2 separate regions of the Homo sapiens genome follow, and region 1 is linked to region 2. Evidence: fine-mapped expression QTL. Tissue or cell type: whole blood. Region 2 holds a variant in brackets; the other region holds the start of a gene. All regions are shown on one strand. Distances are from middle to middle.

What was found.
Region 1: NRG1 starts here. The variant in region 2 is fine-mapped to the expression of NRG1 in whole blood (INTERVAL, PIP above 0.99). The same link has a PIP of 0.9 or more in blood mononuclear cells and monocytes.

What each region holds. Positions count from the first base shown.
Region 1 is chr8:32,541,883-32,554,212 of GRCh38, forward strand. NRG1 (neuregulin 1) reads left to right here and starts at 6,429. Exons shown (of 12, transcript NM_013964.5): 1 at 6,429-6,944. The coding sequence starts at 6,845.
Region 2 is chr8:32,569,902-32,582,231 of GRCh38, forward strand. The region is part of intron 1 of NRG1 (neuregulin 1); the gene reads left to right. Among named protein-coding and RNA genes, the nearest start is that of NRG1, 28 kb to the left of the region's middle. The variant T/G (reference allele first, on the strand shown) is at 5,565.

The DNA of each region.
Region 1 (12,330 bases), 28 kb before region 2:
TGTTTACTGGGTGTCACTTGATGAAATGACTCTATGGGGATTTATCACTAATCTGTGAAGTGAAAAATAATCTTAATGACGAGAGGAAGCTTACCTACATTATGCCTAGGACAAGAAGTTTTTAATTCCCCTCTAACAATGCAGTGTTTGCAGGTTTTCATCCATTATCACTTTGTTAGAGTATCTTTGCTAAAACCCAACTATTTTATAGGCTCCTCTGACACCTCACAAGAATCCAAGGGAGGAAATGAAGCCAATGAATGTAATCTACAGGTGAAATTTGCAGAGCAAATTCAGGAAAAAAAAGTAATTATGCTTCTTCGCATTTTATCATTTTATAACCTCACCTTTTAGAGAAGGTATTGAGAGATTATACTGATTAGTCCAGATTTTTATTTTACATATTTGTTCATGGAAAGGCTTATTTTAACAGAAGTTATATCAAGGTGTCATGCCCAGTACCATCATCATCATCATCAAAAATTTGACTGAATAAACCTAAGTACACACACACTTCTGTATGTATAGTCTTACATATGAAAGTAATATTTATTCATTCACCAAAAAGTGTAAAGAGAGGTTAAAACAGGATGGGATGAAACAGTGTACAAAGGTAAGGAAAAGCTTTTCCAAGCAACTGAATTTCCCTTGAAGCCTGAATGTTAAGTGGAATTAGGCAAAGTGTGGTGGTTGTGGGAAAATTCAGGCAGAGGATATAGCTAGTGCAAAGGCTCTAAGGCTGCAAAGGATGCAAGCTATGCAGGCATGGTGCAAGGAGGCCTTTGTGCAGGAAGCAAAGGGAGATAAGGCTGGGGTGACCCACAGCCTCCTTCTTCAAGGGCACTGGATAGACTCCTGGGAAGCAAAAAGTGACTGGATTAAATTTGCATTTCAAAAAGACTCTTCTGACTACAGTATGTGGCAAGATAATTGGGTGAAGCAATAGTCCAGGTGGAAAGCTTTATTACAGTCAAAACAAAAAAGGATGAAGACTTGGATTGGGGTGGTACTTAGTGAAGAGGCATAAAAGAAGACTGAAGTCAAAATGACAGGACTTGGGGATGGGTGGGCCACAGAAAGAAGGTGTCAAAATGATTGTCACAGTAGGTAATTAGTCATTGATTGATAGAAAATGGTAATCACTGAACTAGGCTTTTTATCTTCATTCTGTTCTATTTAGGTTCATTCTATCCAAAGTATTTAGTGCTTACCAGATGCAAAGTACAGTTAGGAATTCTAATGGATAGAAATATAAAATAAATGGATACAAGGTTATATAATCTCTGCCTTTTATAGGCTTATATTCAAATACAGACAATGCTTTCCATTTCCAGTAAAGGGAATGAGAAATTATATACCCAGATACATATATATTGACACACAAATAAACAGATGTATACACATGTATGTCTACATATGTATATATGTATGTACACATATGCATATATAAGTATATATATATTTGCATCATATACACATCTAAATTAAGGGTGCATTGCCAGGGGACTGAGGAGGATAAATAATGCAGAGGTCAGAAAAAATAACTGAAAAGTTGTGTGGGATGGTATTCTTCTTATAAGAAATTCAAATGTTTTCAAAAATGATTGTCTTATATATCTGCCTTATTACAGAAGAAATGTATGACGTTGGCCCTGTTTATCAGGGCCAGAAGAAGAAATTCAGCAATAGTATTTAGCAGTATTAACAATTTTAATCCATGATATCAGTCATGACACTACAATCCTGACAGTAATCTTATTAATAGTAATGATAAATAATAGTAATCATTAGTATGTAGTAATTTTTAAAAGTCACACAAGCAGAAAAACATAAACATAGATTTGATTTTAATGTTGTTTGAACATTGCCTTTTAGCATTTTTCTTTGAATTCTAAGCTCATAATTTTATCATAAAACTGTCTTTACAGCAGACAATGACTAATTAGTAATTCTATTAAATATTTGCCAAATGGAGGGTACCACTTCTAGTTTTGCCAGAGTGTCTTGCTGGTCAGAAGTGCTTTGCCTAATAAACTCAACATGCATGTTGATGCTAAGAGTCTAACTGAACACACAGGACAATCGCAAATCTGTGAATTATTAAGCCTCCTTTCACCTCAATTTCCTCCCTCATAGGATGGTCTTTGCTTATCTCAGTTTTGTGTGTATTCCTTTTGATTGCTTGTTAATGTCTCCTATTTATAGTGATATTATGTAACAGTATTATTTAATCTCCAAAATAGTATACAATTGTCAAGTACCATTGCTGTAATTATGGTGCAGATGTTGGAATATGCTTGGAATCACTAAAAGTGAATTTACCATAAGCTAAGGAAGCTTACTCTTCAGGGACTCTGACTTGCAAGAGCCTATTTAATTTCTTATTACCTAAATTTGTAAGTTTAATTTTGCAGTATTTTTCTTTTAAAAGATCCCCCAAATTTTATGAGCTTCATTTCCAGAAAACTCATCTGGCCTTGTTTTTCATATTGTATTGTCATATTTAATTTGTTTTTATGCCTTTCTCACAATATTTTAGGTTCATGAGATCAGAGACAGTATTTTATTTGTTTCTCTACTGCCTAGCTTATTATTTATTTATTTATTTATTTATTTATTTATTTATTTATTTATTGTTATGAGACAGGGTCTCACTGTCACCCAGGCTGGAGTGCAGTGGCACATTTATGGCTTACTGCAGCCTCAACCTCCCAGGGCTCAGGTGATCCTCCCACCTCAACCTCCCAGTAGCTGGGACTACAGGGGAGCACCACTACACCTGGCTAATTTTTGTATCTTTTTTTTTTTTTTTTTTTTTTTTGTAGAGACAGGATTTCCTCATGTTGCCCAGGCTGGTCTTGAACTCCTGGGCTCAAGCAATCCACTCATCTCAGCCTCTGAAAGTGTAAGAATTACAGGCATGAGCCACCATGCCCGGCCTGTCTATCACTTAGTTCAGTAAATGCTTGGTGAATGAATGAATCATATACATTTAGTGGTTGTTTTGAAGTTGACTCTGCTGAGTGAGATTTTCTTTGCATTCATGCATCTTCATTAATGTCAACTTTGTTGCAGTTTTTAAAAAAGTAATCTTTGTTTACATTATCTTAAGTTACTTGATTTAAAAAAGTTAAAAGTGACTATTTGCAGAATTCTAAAGTCCCATTACTGTCAACATGCATAATATTTTGCCAAAAATGCAATTTGTCTTGTTAGTCTTCTTTAATTTTTCCATGTTTTAAAACTTTTCTTGGAGTATTTCCCAAATGGGATTTACTGAGAGGATATATTCAGCCAGCTTTGTAGATTCTAAGAGTCCTTCTAAAAGTTAAGTCTAGCCAAGGAAAAATGTAGTGGCACACGATTGCGTTTCTCTTACGCTGTCATTTAATGTGAGATCTAAATTTTGCATTTCTTTAATGCCCAAGGTGTTTATTTTTTAAAATCTGTACTCTTTTTATCAGGAGTTATGTTGACAATTTACCTGGGAGCTGATATACCCTATATAATACATGATCTAAGACCTGAACAATACACAAATTAATAAAATTAAACCATTAAGATATGTCATCATTTCTAAATTATACAATTGGGTTTTTTTTTTAAAGCAAAAATATTCTTCCTCTTTTCTCCATCCCTTGTTCTGGTCAGTTCCAAGGTTTTTTACAAATGCAAAAGAAATTCATTTGCTACTCCTGACCACAGAGATGAATAATTTAAGGACAATATCAAATTCTTGATAAATCTCATAAATGTTTTAACTGTCCAAGAAATGGACATTTATTTGGTTAATCTTTTAGCTGGCCATAAATAATGTAATAAAACCCCTTAAAATTAACATTAAATAACATAAAGACCTAACGATTTTTAGAAAAAAACCTTTTTGGACTGAGCCTTGAATTTCCTGAGAATTCAGCTACAAGTGATAACTAAAATGTAACTCGAGAATCTGGATATGGTTCCAGAAAGGATTGTTGTCATGCAATTGCCATTTCATCATCTTTCCTTAAAGTCCCTTCAATATTTATCATTGCAATTTTTGTCCTGTCTTTTCCCCTCCATCACATCAAACCAAGGAAAAACAATTATTAAATGCTCATTTATACTCACCTCCCTCCCTTCATATTCATTCATTCCTCAGCCCTAAAATTCCTGTAGGAATCCTGCTTTTACGTTTTATCTTAAAGCCACCATAGTATCTGTAATCTCTTTTGTAGTCATGTATGCTTAATTTTGGAAGACTGTCAACTACCTCTTCAGGTTCATTCAAATGAAAATGTATCACAAAATCGTAGGCTCTTCCCCTATCTCACTGAAAAATTACTCTAAAAATGACCAGTAAGCTGTTTTGTTGAAGCAAAACATCCAGACCCTAAACAAAAGTAGCAGAATTACAACATTTCCATAGAAATGGATTTTGAGCTTCTTTTTTTTAATTGGGGAAAATCTTATTTTTTAAAAAAGAATCCCAGAATACATCTTTGCTTTCAGTCCTTCAATTCTAACATAATGCCATGTTAGAGAATATGTGGTAGTGTATACTAAGCCCTTATGCTGTCTCACATCCTTGGGACAAAATATCTGTTTTGAAAGGACTTCTCTGAATTTTGCTATTTCCTGCTTACTGAGCAGTGGCCCCCTCCTGGGAAAACAGAGTTATTTCAGCCAGTGTTCAGACTCCATCTTGCATACGTCTCTGTGGAATATTAATAGTGCTACTGAGATATATTCATCATCTTTTCTCTGCTTTTGCTGTCTTTATAGCCCAGTGAAATTTATATTTGGTGTTTGTAGGAAGGCTATCAGAAGCTACTTGGACATCAAACTTTTAAACTATAAATAATGATGGCAAGACTGCTAGGATATCTTTCCACAGTTAAACCCATTCAACAGAGTTTCGTTCTTATGACAGTGCAAATTAAACTAGAATAAAATTAGTGTGATTTTAGGACAGTTTTAAAGTGAACATATTTCCCTCCCTCCCTTCCCATCTACATATCAAGGAGACACTCCAGACTGCACTTTTATTTAAATTGCGGCCATCAGAAAATACCGTGAGAAGGTAGTGTGTAGGTAATGGTTCAGTTAGCATTGACCCCAGAAAATGGAAAACCAAGAGCAAGTCACTTTTAAAGTGAAGCAATAGATTTTGAATATGGATTGTTCCAACTCACCACTTCCCGACCACAACACAAGAGTATTTCACTGTAAATTAAGAGTCTAAGTTAACCACAGCTGTGGTATAACTCTGAGAATGTTTTCTCTACATGTAGACAATTCTGGATCCTTCCGTGGTGCCCGTTACCCTGGTCTTTAACTTTTGTCCTTTGCAGGGGAGGGGTCAATGCCTTCTTATTTCCTTGCTCTTTAGAATTCTCCACCAGAGGGAGGACAAGGGAAGGAGTAGGTTTCACGCGCAGTTCTGAGTAAAGTTTGAATCTGAGAAACCCCACATTCACGAATTAAGGATCTCCAGTTCTGTGTCTTTATTCTACCCCTCCCTGCCTGCTTTTCCACTCGGCAGAACTGAGTGACTTTCAGCGGCTGCAGTAATTTTAATTATTCTGAGTCGTGCTCCGAACTATGTTTTTTATCAGTTCCTCTGAAAATTAAGTTGTAGTAAGAGACGTAGTTTAAGGGCACCCCCTTAGAAGAGGCCAGGTTATTTTTTAAGGAAAAGCTGAAGATTTCTAACAGGCACTTACTAAACACACACACACACACACACACACACACACACACACGCACACGGCGCAGACCCAGCAGGAGAGCGCAACCTAGCATCTTTAAGGTTCGCTTAGCCCTTCCTGTGCACCTGGAAGGAAGCCTTATCTTAAACTCCCTTCCACCTAGAGTTTATTTTCGCCTGCGTGCGACAGGGCTTTTGTACTTAAGTGAGTTAAGGAATGAACCCCGAACTCTTCTGGGAAAGCCACCAACGTTCCCCCCGCACCCCTCCCAGGGTTCCTGACCACGGAGACTCTGCTTGGGGCACAGGTGTGGGAGTCGCAAACTTTTCTCTGCGCCGTCCTTTTCCGCGTGGAATGGGACGGAGCAGCCCTCCCAGGCGCTGCCTGGCTGCGGAGGGGAGCGGGCAGCGAGAGCCTCGGGTCTCCGCCTGGGTTCCCGGGTCTCCGGGGCGCTGGCCTCGGTCTCCGCGCAGCGTCCAGCGACCCCTGTCGGGGGTTCCCGGCAGCCGCGCCGCCACCCCCCGCCCGGCCAGCGCGGGAGGAAAAGGGGCTGCGCCCGGGAGCGCCGAGCCCAGGCTCCTCCCGGTGGCGTGTCCGCGCCTCGGGGTGGGGGTGTGGTGGGGAAGAGGGAGGGGGCGAGGCCAGGGGAGGGTGCGAAGGAGGCGCCTGCCTCCAACCTGCGGGCGGGAGGTGGGTGGCTGCGGGGCAATTGAAAAAGAGCCGGCGAGGAGTTCCCCGAAACTTGTTGGAACTCCGGGCTCGCGCGGAGGCCAGGAGCTGAGCGGCGGCGGCTGCCGGACGATGGGAGCGTGAGCAGGACGGTGATAACCTCTCCCCGATCGGGTTGCGAGGGCGCCGGGCAGAGGCCAGGACGCGAGCCGCCAGCGGTGGGACCCATCGACGACTTCCCGGGGCGACAGGAGCAGCCCCGAGAGCCAGGGCGAGCGCCCGTTCCAGGTGGCCGGACCGCCCGCCGCGTCCGCGCCGCGCTCCCTGCAGGCAACGGGAGACGCCCCCGCGCAGCGCGAGCGCCTCAGCGCGGCCGCTCGCTCTCCCCCTCGAGGGACAAACTTTTCCCAAACCCGATCCGAGCCCTTGGACCAAACTCGCCTGCGCCGAGAGCCGTCCGCGTAGAGCGCTCCGTCTCCGGCGAGATGTCCGAGCGCAAAGAAGGCAGAGGCAAAGGGAAGGGCAAGAAGAAGGAGCGAGGCTCCGGCAAGAAGCCGGAGTCCGCGGCGGGCAGCCAGAGCCCAGGTGGGTGCGCAGCGCGGCCCGGGCCCCACGATCCTCCTCCTGCTCCTCCTACTCCTCCTCCTCCTCGGATGCCGTGGCCTCTCCCTCCCCCTCTCCCTCGCCCGTCCTCTTCGCCCTGCGCTCTGAGCGCCCGTTGAGTCGCGCGGTGCTTCCCCTCCTGGGGGCCGCCGCTCACCTGGGCGCCGAGTCCTACCGGGCGCCTACGCCCAGAGCTCAGGGCAAGGGACAGCAGTCCCGGCCGCACCCTCCCAGAGTCCCGGGAGCGCTTCGCTCCCTGGCACGGCCCCTCCCCAGCGCCTTAGCGGCTGAGCCCAGCCCGGGAGTGGGACCTGGGCTATAGGAGTCGAGGCTGCGTGCGCGCGTGCCCCGCGCCATAAGCGCTTTGCACGGGGGCCGTGTGCCCTCTAGCGGGAAACGCTGGAATGGGCCGCCTGGAGGGAGAGCCGGTCCCCTCGGTGTGCCTGGCAGCGCAGAAGTGGGTGGTCGAGCAAGAGGCCGCGTGGGAAGTTAGCTTCGGCGTTTTGGGGCACAGGGCAAGCGATGTAGAGTGCGCGCCGGTTCATCTTGATTCAGTCCTGTGCTACGGAGACTCAAGAGCAGCGGCAGGGATTCCTAAAGGTCAGCGAAGCAGATGAAATCTAGTCCAGTGTCAGGAATCAGCTCTGCCCCAAACAAGTTCTACAAACTTTTGGCTTAACAGTTCTATTTTTCAAGACCTCTGTGATAAATATGGATAATTTACTTTCCCAAGAGATGTAAGAAAACAACCGTTTATCTGAATTTTTGAACCCAATTGTTTGCTGGTTATCTATATAATAAAATGGCAATTGAAGCTTTCTAGAAACAAATCTTGTATTTCATCATCAGAACACGAGCATGAACAAAAGCTTTACCTTAGATGTCCCTAGGAAGCGCTGATGCTTTGGACATTACCTTGGACAAAAGAGGCATGTCGAATAAATACTTGTTTATGAGTGATTGGTAGGTAGCTGATAAAAGAGGGGAGGAAGGAGATGGGGGAGAATTTATTTTTTGCCTCTGCAATTCCCAATTATTAATTGATCCAGATGCCTTAAGTCGCTTCGAGCGTACCCCCAACACACATTTCATGAAGCACTTCTGCAGAATTAATTCACTAGTACTTGATAATACTGTGGCTACAGTAATACTGTAGAAGTATTTGTCCCTTGCTGGAAGAAAACAAACCACATTTGCTTGGTCTTCTTACTGGTATCACTGATAGCATTTCAGAACCTGGGTTATTGGCAGAGACCTTCAGCAGAGTTTTGAGCAAAACAGAAATTGAACAGAGAGTAATTGTTTCACCACTGGCCATTCTTGTGCTTGCTTCTTTAATAAGATCCTGCTGATCATATTCACTTCAATTACTGATCATTGCCCCTCATGAGGGTGTATTGAATTTTCCCTTATTTTTACCCTATATTTTGGGGAGAGACCATAGCACTTTATTCAACAAGATAGGAAATTGGGGAGCTGGATTAGTTACCTCCCTGCGTGACTTTGTCTACTGTCCTTTCTAAGGTCATCATAGTACATTACGGAGATTTCAGACCTAGCTCAAATCGTTGTAAAGAGTTATTTTGGGGGCTCTTATCACTGTTTGTGGTTGTGTTCTCCTGTCTCCCTGCTCATTGGCTTCAGAAGAAGTTTCTGTGGTCCTCTGTAGATGGTCTAATGAATTAAGAAGGGGCCAGCGGTCTGAAGTAGCATCCTGTTCAGGTAATAGGTGTGCATTTTGTCAAGGGCTCCCAGCAGCAGTACCGTAACACAGCAACTTGACAAGTTCAGTGGGGGAGGGGCAGGCATTTCTGTGCCCTCCAGATCTCATCTACTAGGTAGGCAGCTGTCTTGTGATTAGCTACGCTCTCTTGACACAGAGCACCAGAGCTTCCTTGGTGGCTCTCATCTGCTTTCCAGTGGTACAGCAGTGATTCCCTGTAAACCAGCTAAGTCAGTATCTTTAAGTGACATTTGCTTAACTGTCTTCCCTGAAAAATTGGGGTGAATTTGGCTGTAGGTTAGTTTTTAGTATATTTGTCTCTGTTTTCCACCAGATTATAATCTTTTTTGGGGAGGGACTTTTTACCCCCTTCGAAGCATCTTGTGCTTTTTAAACCAGATAAGAATATGTATTCTTTATTTGATTCAGAAAGAATGGTCAACAACTTGAAACCAGCTTTATATAGAAGCACATGGCATTAAATACAATGCTTCAGAATCAGTGTTTCTTTCCTTCTTTGTCATTTTCCTTATAATGGTAAGTGCCAGTGTAGTTTTCCTTGTCTTAGGAGAATTCATACCTGATGACTATAATGGTTTGTGAGAAAAACCCACACTCTAGGTTTCAGGCATTCCCAAAGGAACGACCTATAGATGCCATAACTCTAGTATTCACACTTGCCGTGCCAGCCCAAATTAGGACTTAGGAGGACAAGTTTCTCTTGTATTGCTCCCATCTTAGTGCCTGTCAGTTCCAAGTTTCACTCCTTTCTTAAAACAGCCACTGCAACTGTCTGTCCTTGATGATATGTATGCAATAGCCAAGCCTCTCTTCAGCTGTTTTAACATTGCCTCATGACAGTCAGGGGAGAGATAATGGGGTGGGATCTCAGCCACTCAGCCCCGCTGTGTGCTATATTGTACGCATAGGCATAAACACATCTGTTGGAGGGAAATTTTCAGGGGGAAAAGGCTTCTTTAACTTTCATATGGCATGAGTGACTGATATGCGATACATACATGGCTATTTCAGAGCATCTGCACTTTTATACAATTAACTAAATGTTGAATTGCACACTATTGGGGCTGCAGATGTTCAACACAATTATCTATTCCATAATAATAGCTCTAATAGGTCCCAAGCCCTTGGAGTCATTGATTCCTTTTCTTTGCTCAAAATAAGCAAGCTAAGAATAGTCTTGGGTGCTGTATCACTGATCCACGTACCAAGAGCCCTGTAACAGCCTGGGTCTCCTTGGTGCTGGACCTCCCATATCCAGCCTCTTCATACTGATTCAGCTCAACAGACTTTTTCTCTTGAAGCCTGAATTACAAAACCAGAGCTTTTTTTTTTTTTTTTTTTTGACGGAGTCTCGCTCTGTCGCCAGGCTGGAGTGCAGTGGGTGCAATCTCGGCTCACTGCAACCTCTGCCTCCTGGGTTCAAGTGATTCCCCTGCCTCAGACTTTTGAGTAGCTGGGACTACAGGTGTGCGCCACCATGCCCAGCTAATTTTTGTATTTTTAGTAGAGACAGGGTTTCACCATGTTGGCCAGGATGGTGTCGATCTCTTGACCTCGCAATCCACATGCCTCGGCCTCCCAAAGTGCTGGGATTACGGGCATGAGCCACGGCGCTTGGCCGCTTTTTTTTTTTTTTTTTTTAATTTTTGGCCAATTGGTATTTGACTCTAAGCTTCCTTTGTGATTCTCTGTCGATATGTTGTTCTTACTCTGCACCTCTGCACGGAATTCTGTCTTTTTTCTTTTTCCTCTTAAATAACCTGGGAAAAATTCACTATCATGCCTAGCCAGATTCTAGAACTATCCTGTCTCCCTTCACTCCTGGTAGGAGGGGCATTTGTGAGTCTGGGTGATGGAAACATTGAGAAACCTAGTATCCCAAATAGGTAGAAGCAGGCTGTGTGTTTCCCCAATGACATCACCCACCTGTTTCCCTCACTAAGTGGCTCTGCAGGCTGAAGTGCTTGTAAACATTCTTGCGTATAAAGTACCCTGACCCTAACGGGGCAGCCTGTGTTTACAGAACAAGAGGAATGTCCAGTGATCTGTTTCAACCTGGTTACTTGTAACCACCTAGCCTATGTAATTATTAAAAACATTAAAGATTATTCACAGAATGAAATAGGACTTATTTTGCAGAATTAAAATAGCAGGAAGAGCGGAAGAAAGTTGTATATTCAGACATGAATACTTCTCATACCCATGAAATGGTCAGATAACACTAATGAAAAAGAGGAGAAAAAATATATATAGAGAACCAAAAAATATTAGACAAACATGAACACTGAATACCTACTACATGCCAGGCACTGTGCTGGACACTTTTATGTTTATTAATGAGGGACCTGCTATTTATTGAATTCTTACCATGTTCCAGGCAGTAAAACAGATGTATATTGTGTATTTTGTCATCCGTCCTTTCGAAAATAAGAAAATTCCTTGCTATTAGGCAGCAAGATGCCAGATGGCCTAGTCCTTAGCTCTTCAGCCAGATTGCCTGGGTTTAAATCCTAATTAGGCTGTTCCTTAAATATGTAGTCATGGGAAAGTTACTTAATCTTTCTGTGCCTAAATTTCCTTTTTCTGCAATATGGGGATAATAATACTATTATTATTATCATGAGGGTTTCATGAAGCTTAAAGGAAATAATCCATGAAAAGCACTCTGAACATCAACCAACATGTAATAAGTGCCCAGTAATATTAGCTGTCTTTATAAAACTACTTAAGAAATGAATTATCTGTGTCTTTGCAAAGATATTTGATATAATTTCCAAAATTTACCTTTTATGGTAAAAAATATCCAAAGCTGACCTCAGATTACAGTGGTTATAAATATTAATATGTACTACCTGTAAAACTAGAGAAAAGTGGATAAGAGTGTCAAATTCCATAACTGCATATATACATTATGAAAACAGTACTGAACTCAATCTAAATATTGAAAGTAGAGTGAGGTGCAACATAATTTTATCTCTGGCAGAAAAATGTTGAGGTTTCAAGCTATGAGAAGATTTTGAAACATGACTCTTTTTTCTGGCAACACTTAAGAGTTGATGCTTAAACCTCACTTTATTGTATAGAATACATAATCTTCTCTTTTGGGACTCGTATAAATTGCAGCAATTGAAAAACAAAAGTGTGCACCAACCTGCCCCTCACTATCTTTTTATCAAGCATAACAGTATATTGCCAGCAATGTTCATAGAATTGAGTGCAGGTGTTTCTAAATATAAACAAAATAAGGAATATATTAAATTCACATTTCTAGTTTTTTATTTCCTCCTCAGCCTTCCTAGAATGGCTATAGGTAGTGTTTAAAGTTCTGGAAGTGTGATAGATTCTTACCAAATCAATGTTCTGTTAGCATTCTCCAAGTAACAAGTTAAATTGGATTTGAACAGTACTGATAGTTTATCATGTTCTGTTAGGATAGATGAAAACAAACCAAATGCCAGTATTTTGGGTGAGTCACTTTATTTGCTCAAAGACGCAAATGAATGAACTTCTGGTAGTTTAGTTAACCCTGGAGCTCCCCCTCTTGACAAATAGAAAAAACAAAAAAATAAATCAGATAGTATTAGCTTGAAAACGGATTTCTTTTACCCAGATAAAAAATATGCC
Region 2 (12,330 bases):
TATCTTTTTTTTTTTTTTTTTTTTGAGATGGAGTCTTGCTCTGTCTCCCAGGCTGGAGTGCAGTGGCGCGATCTTGGCTCACTGCAACCTCTGCCTCCTGGGTTCAACCAGTTCTCCTGCCTCAGCCTCCTGAGTAGCTGGGATTACAGGCACACACCATCACGCCTGGCTAATTTTTGTATTTTTAGTAGAGACGGGATTTTTACCATGTTGGCCAGGCTGGTCTCGGACTCCTGACCTCAGGTGATCCGCCCACCTTGGCCTCCCAAAGTGCTGGGATTACAGGCGTGAGCCACTGCTCCTGGCCTCTGATATTTATCTTTATATTTTCTATATAACATGCATGTTCTGCTGTTTCTTTTTTAAAAACCTTTTATTTTAGGTCTTATAGGAAGCTTGTGCATTCATTTATTCAACACATAATTATTAAGTACCTAATACATTCTGTACATTGTGCTAGGTTCTGGAAATAAACAGAGAATAGAACAGACATGATTCTTATCCATGGAGAGCTTATATTCTAAAGATGCTAGGAAGTACTTTTAAATAAAACTCTGACTTATATATAAAAACTTCAGAAAAGAAAGGGCCTGCTTTTAAATATTTTTTTTGGTGTTGTCCACTACTTGAACTTCATCAAGTTCATCAGAAAAAATTTAAATGGTATTTCTAAATAAGTGGTTTGCTCCACTCTATCATTAAGCTTGTTAAGATGAATAAAAATCAGAATATTTTCAAATGTATGTAAATACATACATTCAGTGTATTTCCCAGCTTCAGAAAGTCCTAATTTCTGAAAGTCCTTGTTATCAACTCTTGTTTTGAAAGGACCCTTTCTTTAAGATAAAGTGTCACATACATTATTTTGTATTGATACAAATTATTGATGATTATGGATATTTTAGGTAATCAATACTAAGATAATTATGTTAATATGAATTATGATTATAGGGTATTGGTAACAGACAGGAGTGTAGGTGAATGATATGAATTTGCACTGAGTTTGTCATGCCCAGAAAGTTAATCTGAGCCAAATTTCTAAAAAGTGCCTTCCTTATTCCATATTATGTATGAAAGAAGAGCATAGTTTATGTGTGAATATATGGGCAACATGTATATAGATGTCCACATGAACTGCGCCTGGTTAGGTCCTAGAAAAGCCTATGGTGGGAAAGGTGGGTTAAGAGGATTGAAGTTAGGAGTGAACTTGTTATAGTCTTCATAAATATTTTTATAGCCAGTAACATAAAACAATAAAGACAGTGCTCCAAATTAAAGATACAGCAATGACATGACATCTACATTTGAAACTAGTAATAATGGATGCCGGGCCCTATTACTAATTTCTGCTTAGCATTCCTTACTCACCAGAAATGTTTTAGGATCTTAGTTCCTTTGCAGCTTGGGATGCTTGTAAATTCACTTGTTCTTTTATAAATAATGTGCATACAAGGAGATTTTCAACAGCATTTTCTTATCAAAGGTCTGGGCCTATAGTCAAATAGTCAATGCCATCGTGGTTTTACAGCACCCATGAGGAGGTGTTGACGTTCAGGTTTTAGCTTCAGGATTTTGACTTGTGTCTTCTTCCTGCTTGGGTCCTGTCTCTTCCCACCTCCCCAGCTCAGCCTTCATGTACGAATTTTAGATTCTTTTGCCTTCGTATCAGCCAGCAGAAGCTAGTTTTTTGTTTTGTTTTGTTTTTTTCAAGGCCTAGGTTTCCTTTTACTCACATCTTTCTTCAAGCTTTATTTGCAAACACCTCCATTCCTCTTGCCATTACTTTTGCTTCATGTCTATTTCAAAACTCTGTTTCATCTTTTTCTTGTTACTACCAATAGGAGTAAATTGAGTGACTTGCAATTAAGGTACAACAGAAGCAGAATTTTCAAAGTTACTCAAAAGGAATAGGTAGAAAAATTCCCATGGTAAGACAACTCAGTAAATAATTACATACAGGCAGTGACCATATATGCTCATTTTAAGTTACAAATATACACACATGGCCATAAAAATAGTCAGAGACTGAGCTGGAACTCAATCCGTAAACTGATTCCAAACCCCATGTAATTTTTATACACAGTTTATTGCTAGCTTTTTGTCCTTTTATGTTCACTTTTATGTCCTATCTTCTCTATATTCCTAAGTTGCCCACATTTTAAAATCTGCCTGTCTTCTGACTTTTTACCACAAGTGTTTTTTTCTCATCCACTTTTATTATTCTCATTTCCTGTTTTCAAAGAAACAATTGCAACACATTTTAGAAATGCTTACGACATAAGTGGCACACTCCTGAAGTCTTTCCAAAATCTATTTTCCTCCATGTCTTAATTTTTGAAATTTATATACTTAGCTTCTTTCTGCTAATTCCCACAGAAAAACTCAGCACAATTTTATAAGCAATGTGAATGATCTTAGAGCCCTCATAGGAATAAATTGCACAGAATGTTATCAATATATCATAAGTGAGGTACAGGATTAATTTTCTAAGATATCATTTAAAATTTCTTCTATTGTTACTATACACATTTGATTTATTAAGCCAAAACTTCATTCCTCTAAGAATAATAATCCCGTCACAGTTCTAATCCTAGCATAGTGTCGTCTTAACTGCAATGTACTATCCTAACTTTCAATTACATCTTATTTCAGCTTTCTTTATTATACAGTAGCTAAAAATCATTGATAGTTATAAAGACCATAATGCCATAACCTCTCAAATTTAAACAGGATAGAATATTTTATGTTACTAATACAGCAACAGAGGCATTTTCCTCTGTTGGGTAGATGCAATTATTCAGATTCCAAGTGGTTGAGACATTCCATAATTATGTCTCTAATTTTACATTCTACAGGCCTCATTTCCTCTGTCTGATAACTGTCCTCACCCAAGGGTTTCTACAAAGTCACAGTTTGGGTGAATCTGTCATCTCATTTTTTCAAAGAAGGAAATCATCATCAAATAAAATTATACACACCAAATAAATAAATATCAAATAATATATTAATCTACAAATTTGCGACATATTTATTTTCTGACTTTGAGGTTAATTTCGCCACCATTTTTCCTAATCTGTATATCCTATCCCCACTTGCAAACAATGTTTTGCCTGAACCGAGTAATGGCAACATTTATCGTAAGTATATCTTAGCTTCTTCTCCTTATCTGAATGGGGTTCTAGTTCCCTTAGCATTCTCAGATAACATTCTGAATATTCTACTCTGTATATCCAGTTTGTTCATAGACCTCAAAATGCAGACCCTGCATGGATTATTCCCATTCTGCTGTCTGTCTTTATGAAACCTGCCAATACTTATTGCTAGATGAAATTCTACAGATGTTCCATGATGACTTATTGACTCGATAACAGGGATCTGCAAACATTTCTGTAGAGACCCAACTCTGCAGTTGTAGCACAAAAGTAGCCACAGACAATTTATGAGCAAATGAATGCAAGTGTGCTCCAATAAAACTTTATTTACAAAAACAGATGGTAGGCAGGATTTGGCTTATGAGCCGTATTTTGCTGACCTCTGCTCTATAATATTCCTTGAAGAGATACTATTATCCCAATATCCTGACATAAAATATATATCCTTACCATTTGCTGTAGCAATATTCAATTTTTCTTTACCTGGCGTTGCTTATGTTCTCCAGCCAGTTCTGTCTTTTCATTAGGAATCTGAGTTAGGATTTCTTAGAACTATGTATTTGGGTAAGTTTATCAAAGGCCTTTTTATTTTTATTTTTTATTTTATTATTATTATACTTTAAGTTTTAGGGTACATGTGCACAATGTGCAGGTTTGTTACATATGTATACATGTGCCGTGTTGGTGTGCTGCACCCATTAACTCGTCATTTAGCATTAGGTATATCTCCTAATGCTATCCCTCCCCGCTCCTCCCACCCCACAACAGTCCCCGGTATGTGAAATTCCCCTTCCTGTGCCCATGTGTTCTCATTGTTCAATTCCCACCTATGAGTGAGAACATGCAGTGTTTGGTTTTTTGTCCTTGCGATAGTTTGCTGAGAATGATGATTTCCAGCTTCATCCATGTCCCTACAAAGGACATGAACTCATCATTTTTTATGGCTGCATAGTATTCCATGGTGTGTATGTGCCACATTTTCTTAATCCAGTCTATCATTGTTGGACATTTGGGTTGGTGCCAAGTCTTTGCTATTGTGAATAGTGCTGCAATAAACATACATGTGCGTGTGTCTTTATAGCAGCATGACCTTTTAAAGATCTTAGGAGCATAATGCTGTAACCTCTCAAATTTAAACAGGATAGAAGATTTTATACATTACTAATCTGGTTGGGTAGATGCAATTATTCAAATTCCAAGTGGGTGAGACATTCCGTAATTATGTCTCTAATTTTACATTCTCCAGGCCTCATTTCCCTCTCTCATTTCATCAGGTCTTCAAAAGGCTTTTAATAAACTTACCCAAATATATAATTCTAAGAAATCTCAAATTCAGTGCTTGATCAGATCACTGTGTGGTATAGTTTGTATATTTTTCCCCACCCAAATCTCATGTTGAATTGTAATCTCCAATATTGGGGGTGGGGTCTGGTAGGAGGTGACTGGATCATGGGGGTGGATTTCTCATGAATGGTTTAGCACCATTCCTTGGTGCTGTCCTCATGATAATGACTAAGATCTGGTCATTTTAAAGTGTGTGGTCTCTCTCTCTTTCTCTTGCTTGCTCGCTCCTGCTTTCACCATGTGATGTCCCCCACTACTCCTTTGCCTTCCGTCATGATTGAAAGCTCCCTGAGGCTTCACCAGAAGCCTGGCAGATGCCAGCATCAGGCTTCTTGTAAAGCCTGTAGAACTGTGGGCCAGTTAAACCTCTTTTCTTGATAAATTACCCAGTCTCAGTTATTTTTTACAGCAATGCAAGAATGGCCTAACACAATGTGTAATCTTTGTTTCATAGAGTTTACACTACAGCTTTGCCACCTAACTCTCCTATGTTAGTACATAGAATTTCTGAACCTTCAATCCTGTTCAGAATGCCAGATTGTGAGAGAATCAGTTATGCTTCAACCTTGAAAGCATGGAGTTCTCTGCTTTCAGGGAACTCCAGATGACTCAGGAACAGAAGTAAACCCTAGACAAATCTAAAGCCAAACATAGAATAAAGCTGAACAGCAGATCATAAATCCCATTCCTTGCTCCCTAGGAATACCTCTTCTTCTAACTCCAGCTTCAGATTTTTCCCCAGGTTTCACAATTGACCTTTGTCTTAGTGTCCATACTGGTTGGACATACCCCTCTGGCATAGACATTCATGATAGGCATTGCCATTCTTCATGATATGTCATTCTTGGCTACTTCCTCTTTTTCTAGGATGCATGTTTTAGCTCACTTCATGTTCAATTGCCTTGTGGTTGGCCTACTTCTTCTTTCTCTTCTTTCCTACTTTTGTGGTTGCTTTATAGTTGACTAATTACTAGTTCATCGGCTCTGCTTATTGCCTAATACTATAAAAGTTCCCTTCCTGGAAGGGTTGGGGATGGGAAAGTGGGGGTGGGTGGTAGTAAAATTAAC[T/G]AAACTTTGTAGTGGGCTGGAGATAGGGCATGAGTAAAGGAAAAGTTGTATTTTAGGACTGCTCAACTGCATGGATATTTATACTTTTTAAGACAAGCAACATTAACAAAGTCTGGATCTTAAAGTAGAGATCTACACTGGAGATAATAATATCCCTGTGGGCATTTAATGCTCATGGTTACCTAGAAAATAAGTATAAAGTAGGAAATTTTGAGAGAGTATTCTTGTAAAGATTAAATGGTGACACCAATGTAAGGCTTGAATGTTCTAATAAGGGTGAAACTTGGTCTGGGAATGGCAGTTCTTACACCTTTTATAATTCTTAACTGTTATTTTTTAGATCTGGTCATTTAAATCTGAGGACCCAGATATGCTAGTCTTATAGAAAGCACAAATTTAAAATGGGTTCTTTGTCTTACATAGCTCTAAAGTTTAGGAAAAAAGTATCTTCAAGCAACCTTCATAGGAATTCTCCAAAATAAATGTGTTCCTGATTAATATGTGTTTTATTTTTTAAAATTTATTTTTAATTAATTTTTAAATTGACAAAATTGTATGTATTTATGGTATACAACGTGATGTTTTGAAATATGCATACACTGTGGAATGGCTAAAGCAAGCTATTTAGCATACGTGTCATCATCTCACATACCATTTGTTTGTGGTGAGGACATTTAAAATCTACTCTCTTAGCAATTTTCAAATAATGTAATTATTTTAAATCAGTTGTTTAAATATTATGAAATTACTTTCAGCCCTTAGAGAATAGTCCATCTCACATGACACATAAAAATGGAAGGAGGTGTCTAGCTCAGGAGAAACTTTTTGGAATATTTGATTCTCTTTCCCTCATTTTCTCTTCTTTTTTTGTTTTTTAAAAAATAATTTTTAAACCCTGTATTGACTCCTGGCTATTATTTTGAATATGAGTGCTAACAATTTGAGCCTTGTAGATAACTATCCCAATGCCAATTGAACCATAATTTTCATTTGTCTCTTTCTACAAGATTCTGAATTTTTTCAGAAGTGAAATTAAGTCTCAATTCCCTATAATTTACCCAGGGCAATAAATCTTAAACATTTTTTCTTAAAAAAACAAAACAAAACATTTTTACTGGAAAGACTTTATGGGGTGGACATTAACTCTGTAAATGCCATATAACTTTTGGAGAGGGCTGCCCCTGGCACAGTGTAATATTTATGAGAAAGTTGTGCCCATACTAACCACCTGTATGAGAATCGCCTGCGATGCTTTTGTTTAAAAGGCAGATTCTTTTTTCCCTATATTTTTCTCTTTTTAAAAAAATAATTTCGACTTATATTTTATATTTATATTTATATTATTTTAAAAAATAATTTCAACTTATATTTTATATTCAACCTACGTATGCAAGTTTGTCATATGAGTGATATTGCGTGGTGCTGAGGTTTAGGGTACGAATGATCCCATCACCCAGATACTGAGCATAGTACCCAATAGTTGGTTTTTCAACTCCTGTTCCCTCCTTCCCTCCCTGCTCTAGTAGTCCCCAGTGTCTGTTTTTGCCATCTTTATGTCTATGAGTATTTGATGTTTAGCTCCTACTTATAAGTGAGAGCATGGAGTATTTGGTTTTCTGTTCCTGCATTAATTCGCTTAGGATAATGGCCTCCAGCTGCATCCCTGTTGCTACACAGGATGCAGTTTCATTCCTTTTTATGGCTACATGATATTCCACAGTGTGTATATACTACATTTCCTCAATGCAGTCCACCACTGATGGGCACCTAGGTTGATTCCATGTAAAAGAGCATATTGTTAGGCTTTTCTCTGAATTACTGAATCAGAGTCTTTCAATGGGTTCCATGAATATTTCATATTCATTTTAGTAAACTTGCTCAAGTGACTTATGTATACAGTTATAGGTTTGGGAACCTCTGGCCTGGGGAAGTTGTCTGCAACACCACTGACAGGTCCCTGTCCTGCCACAGACATTTCTGCTGTAACTCCATGCTTGCATTTTTTGGGAAAAACAAAGCAAGACAAAACAAAACTCATTTTGCAAAATGACACACAAAATAAAGAGGCTTCTGGAAAAAGTAGGGCTAGGTGAAGAGAATTCAAAACTTACGAAACTATAAACTGAACACCAACAAGAATAACAATGAACCTAATAAAAAACTAGCATAGTTATGGCTCTAACAACATTTATTCTCAACAACTTAGTTAAATCGTTGTACCCTTAAACCTTAACACTTTTTTTTTTTGTTTTTCGAGACCTTGGTTCTTGAGGACATTTTCTTCTAGCAGAAATCAGTATTAACTTCTTTATCCATCTCTCTCTTTTTTTTAAACTGTTATGTACCATCATTATAGCACTTCTTACAAAAATGAGGAGCTGTCTTTGTAACTTCATCTGTGCCATCAGCTTTTCCAGATAGTTTAACATAAAAGGAAGATGAAGTGGTTCTGGAAGCAAGAAAACCAGCCACCACTTGCAGTAAGGAAGGCAGGTCTATGGGCCTATTAGCTCATGGAGGTTTTTGTTTGCTTGTTTGTTTGTTTTTGAGATGGAGTCTCACACAGTCGCCTGGTCTGGAGTGCAGTGGCTCCATCTGAGCTCACGGCAACCTCTCCCTCCCAGGTTCAAGCGATTCTCTAGCCTCAGCCTCCTGAGTAGCTGGGATTACAGGCACCTGCCACCACGCCCGGATAATTTTTTGTATTTTTAGTAGAGACAAGATTTCAGTATGTTGGCCAGGCTGGTCTGGAATGCCTGACCTCGTGATCCACCCGCCTCAGCCTTCCAAAGTGCTGAGATCACAGGCATGAGCCACCGTGCCCGGCCAGATCTTTTTAAATAAGATCTTCATGTGTTATAATACTAAGGTTGTCTCTTTAATCACAAAAAGCCAGTCCTTTATTGCTTCAAATTGTTCATGTGCTGATATCATATGTCTATTGAGGTCTGACTTACTACATTAACACACGCTGGCAGAACCACTGCAGACATTCTCTGTCCTCCTTTTTTTTTTTTGTCACTAACATGATAAAATTCTTAAGGGTTTGAATTCTCAGAGGTACTGTCTGATGGTTAAATCACAGAGGTCCACTGCATTGCTGATAGATTTTTTTTTCACCACAGTGCTGACAATACAATTGTTCAGGAATGGCCTTCATGACCATAAGGTTGGTTTGACCTAGGTTCTTAATTGTGATGTCTCTATAGCTTTTAACTTATTTCAGGATGATTTCCCCCATTGCAAATAGATAATTGTTCAATAGATTTGCTGCAGACTTTTGGACCTGATCTATAGTTTTCCCTTGGGATATGTAAGATATTTGAGGTACACCAAAGTAATGCAAGAAATATCTTTCTTTAGAGCTAGAGTTTAGACAGGAAGTATGTCATAGAACTATGGTGTGTCCTTCCCAAGTGAGGGATTTCATTAGACCTTGACTTAGAATTGAATGTAATGTTAATCTGTAAAGGCTTGTTGTGAGGGTTTTGCTTAAATTTTTAGGTTTATTAAATTTTTAGGTTTATTAAAATTCCTAAATGATGATATTTTTATCAGCAAAGACAAAAATACTGCTACTTAAGTAGTAGTCACTAGAAAAATAATTTATTTTGTTTTGTTACCTTAACTGTCAGATTTAAGCACATTCCTACCAATATTTGGGTTTGGGCTCTGAAACCCAAAACTTTTGAAAGCTTTGGAAAATTTTGTAGAAGTTCTTTCTTCTGTCTTTTTTTTTTTTTTTTTTTTTTGGATACTATTGCCACTGGGATGCAAGCATTCATAAATTATGTTTAAATATAAAAATTAGGTCGGTAACTCTCTGCTCGTGGATTCCTGAAACACAATGTACAAAAACCCAGAATAGATCTTCGTGGCTCACTTTAGAGCGTAACAGCACTGGGAGGTGATCTGACTTTTCATTTTACACGCAAGAAACTGAGGCTGGAGAGAAAGAAGGGTTGTCTGGGTCACAACTGTTGAGGTCAGCCTCTGGGATTGAACTTCATTTCCTGAATTCCTCATGGTTTTCCACCTCCATTCCTCAGCTTCTGTGATCCCTTTGGTATGGGGCTGTTTCTTGAACCTTGAATAGGAGGGTATGGAGGTGAAGTGACATGTGAGCTAATTCTTTTACCTCACTCTGGTTTATCTATTTTTATGTACTAAGGTCCTGTGTATTAATTAATGAGATGAGTTCCACAGTTGCTAATATTAGAAAATCAACACAATTGATTTCTCCTTGGGAACTGTATTAGTTTTCTATTGCTCCTGTAACAAATTACCACAAACTTTGAGGCTTAAAGCAACATGAGTTCATGAATTTATTATCTTAGAGTTTTAAATGTTAGAATTCTGTGAGGAGTGTCACTGGGCTAAAATTGAAGTGTTGGCAGGGCTGCAGGAGGCTCTAGGAGAGAAATCATTTTCTTGCCTTTTTCGGCTTCTAGAGGGGCTTCCCTTCCTCTTACTTCCAAGCCAACAACATGACATCTCTGAGTATTCCTCTTTAACTGCACCAAGGGAAGATAATCTCCTTTTAAAGATTCACACCGTTAGATTGGGTGAACCTGGATAATATAGTCAGCCCTTCCTATGCATGAGTTTTGTAGCTGCTGATAAGGAGGTCATCTGTAAGCAACTTGAACATCTATGGATTTTGGTATCTGCAGGGGATCCTGGAGCCAATCCCCCACAGTTAGTGAGGAATGACCATATAGCATAATTTCCCCATGTTAGTATCCTTAATCTCAAGGTCTCAATCATATCTGTGAAGTCCCTTTTGCTGTGTAAGGTAACATATTCACAGGTTCTGGGGATCAGGATTTAGGATCTTTGGGAGCCATTATTCTGCCTGCTACAGGAATGAATTTGTTTCCACTTGTCTCAACTCTAAGTGGGCAGTTATTTAAAAACTTTGTATTAATTTAGAGAGCTTCATAAAATGCTAAAATTTTCTGAGAACCTAAGTGATAATATAAGAAGAATAGCTACCAACATTTGTTGAGTGCTTGCAATGTGACACACACTGACTGCTATGTGCTTTAATTGCAATATCTTATCTAATCATTTTAGTAGCCCTATGAGATAGGTTCTATTTCATTTACATTTTAGAAAATGTAAAATGAGGCTTAGAGAATTTAAATAATTTGTCCAAGGTCAAACAACTAGCATATGGGAGACTAAGACTTGAAATTGGGTTTGTCTGACCCAGGCTTTTAATCAGCATATTGCACTGTTTATATGTAGCTCTGAAGTGGTAAAATTGTAACATAGTGTAATGCAGTACTGAGAATATAATATCTTAGTAATTTTTAATAAATAAGTGTTTTAGTAAGGAAAATAAGTTGTTATTAGGAATAAACACTTTCTAAATGACATAGTACCCATTGAGCAGTGTTCAACTGATTAATATTAGTTGGTTATATACTGATTTAGTGATCAGTTCTCAAAGCCTCAATTTAAATAGAAAAGGAGTTATGTGGAATTTAAGTGGAAAGGATATAGCTACTTTAACAATTTTTTGTGCTCTCAGATTGTAAAGAGGAAGGATTTATTTTACAAATAAATTGCTTGTGAAAGAAATTTAATTGGTTAATAAAGTCTCTATCTCTTGCCCCCTAACCAGAATGTCAACTCCAGGAGAACAAGGATCTTGGTTTTCATACTCAATTCTATATGTCCAGTACTTAAAACAGTGAGAGCAATGTAACTGATGCACAATGATATTTGTTGAATCAATGGGTACTGACAAATTCCTAAGGGAATAAAGCCAGTTATCTACATGAATAAGGCAGGATCTAGATACTAGCTGCATGCCAGAAGAAGAATATAGAGCGTTCTAATGTGTTTGGCTAGGAACAGACCATATCATGGGCTAATATGATAGAGTAATAAAGGTAGTGATAACCCTGATAAATTCAATATGTTTTTACATAAATCCTGTGCATTAAACTAGTAGCTCACTTGATATGGAGTGTTTGAATCACAGATTGACTTTGCTCATTCGTTCTTCCATTCAGTCAACATTATTGAGCACTGTGCTAGTTATTAGGATAAAAGATGCATTAAAAGAATAAAGCCCCTAACTTCCAGGAGCCTCTGTCTCCTAAGTGAAACAAACATGTGTAAAGATAAAATACCTTATATTAAATGGAATAATAATGGTTTTATAGAAACATGGAAGAGGGATACTTAACTTATTATTCAAAAGAGACACTTATTCGAAAGACATAAATTGAGTTTAGTCATCTTGAGTTTTAGAAGAAATAATTTTTGATTTATGGAGGGATTGCAAATATAGGACAGAGAGTTCTCCTATACCCTTTATTCAGCTCGTTTAATAATACATAGCTTTGCTATATTGATCAAAACTAAGAAATTAACATTGGTACAATACTATTAGCTAAACTGCAGACCTTACTTGGATTGAACCATCTTACAGCCTTTTGTGCTAAAGGGAAATTGTGTATGAAAGTGCTTTGTAAACAGTAGGCTAAATAGTGGTAGTCTAAGAAGTGCCATCTGGTGAGCCCAGGGTAGGTCACTGAGGGTGAAAGTTGCATTCTCTGAAGGGAGCTTTAAATAATCTAACCATGAACTCTATTTTATTTTATTTTATTTTATTTTGTTTTGTTTTATTTATTTTTGAGACAGGGTCTTGCTCTGTCACCCAGACTGGAGTGCAGTGGCATGGTTTCAGTTCACTGAAGCCTAAACCTCCTGGGCTCAAGTGCTCTGCCCATCTCAGCCTCCGGAGTAGCTG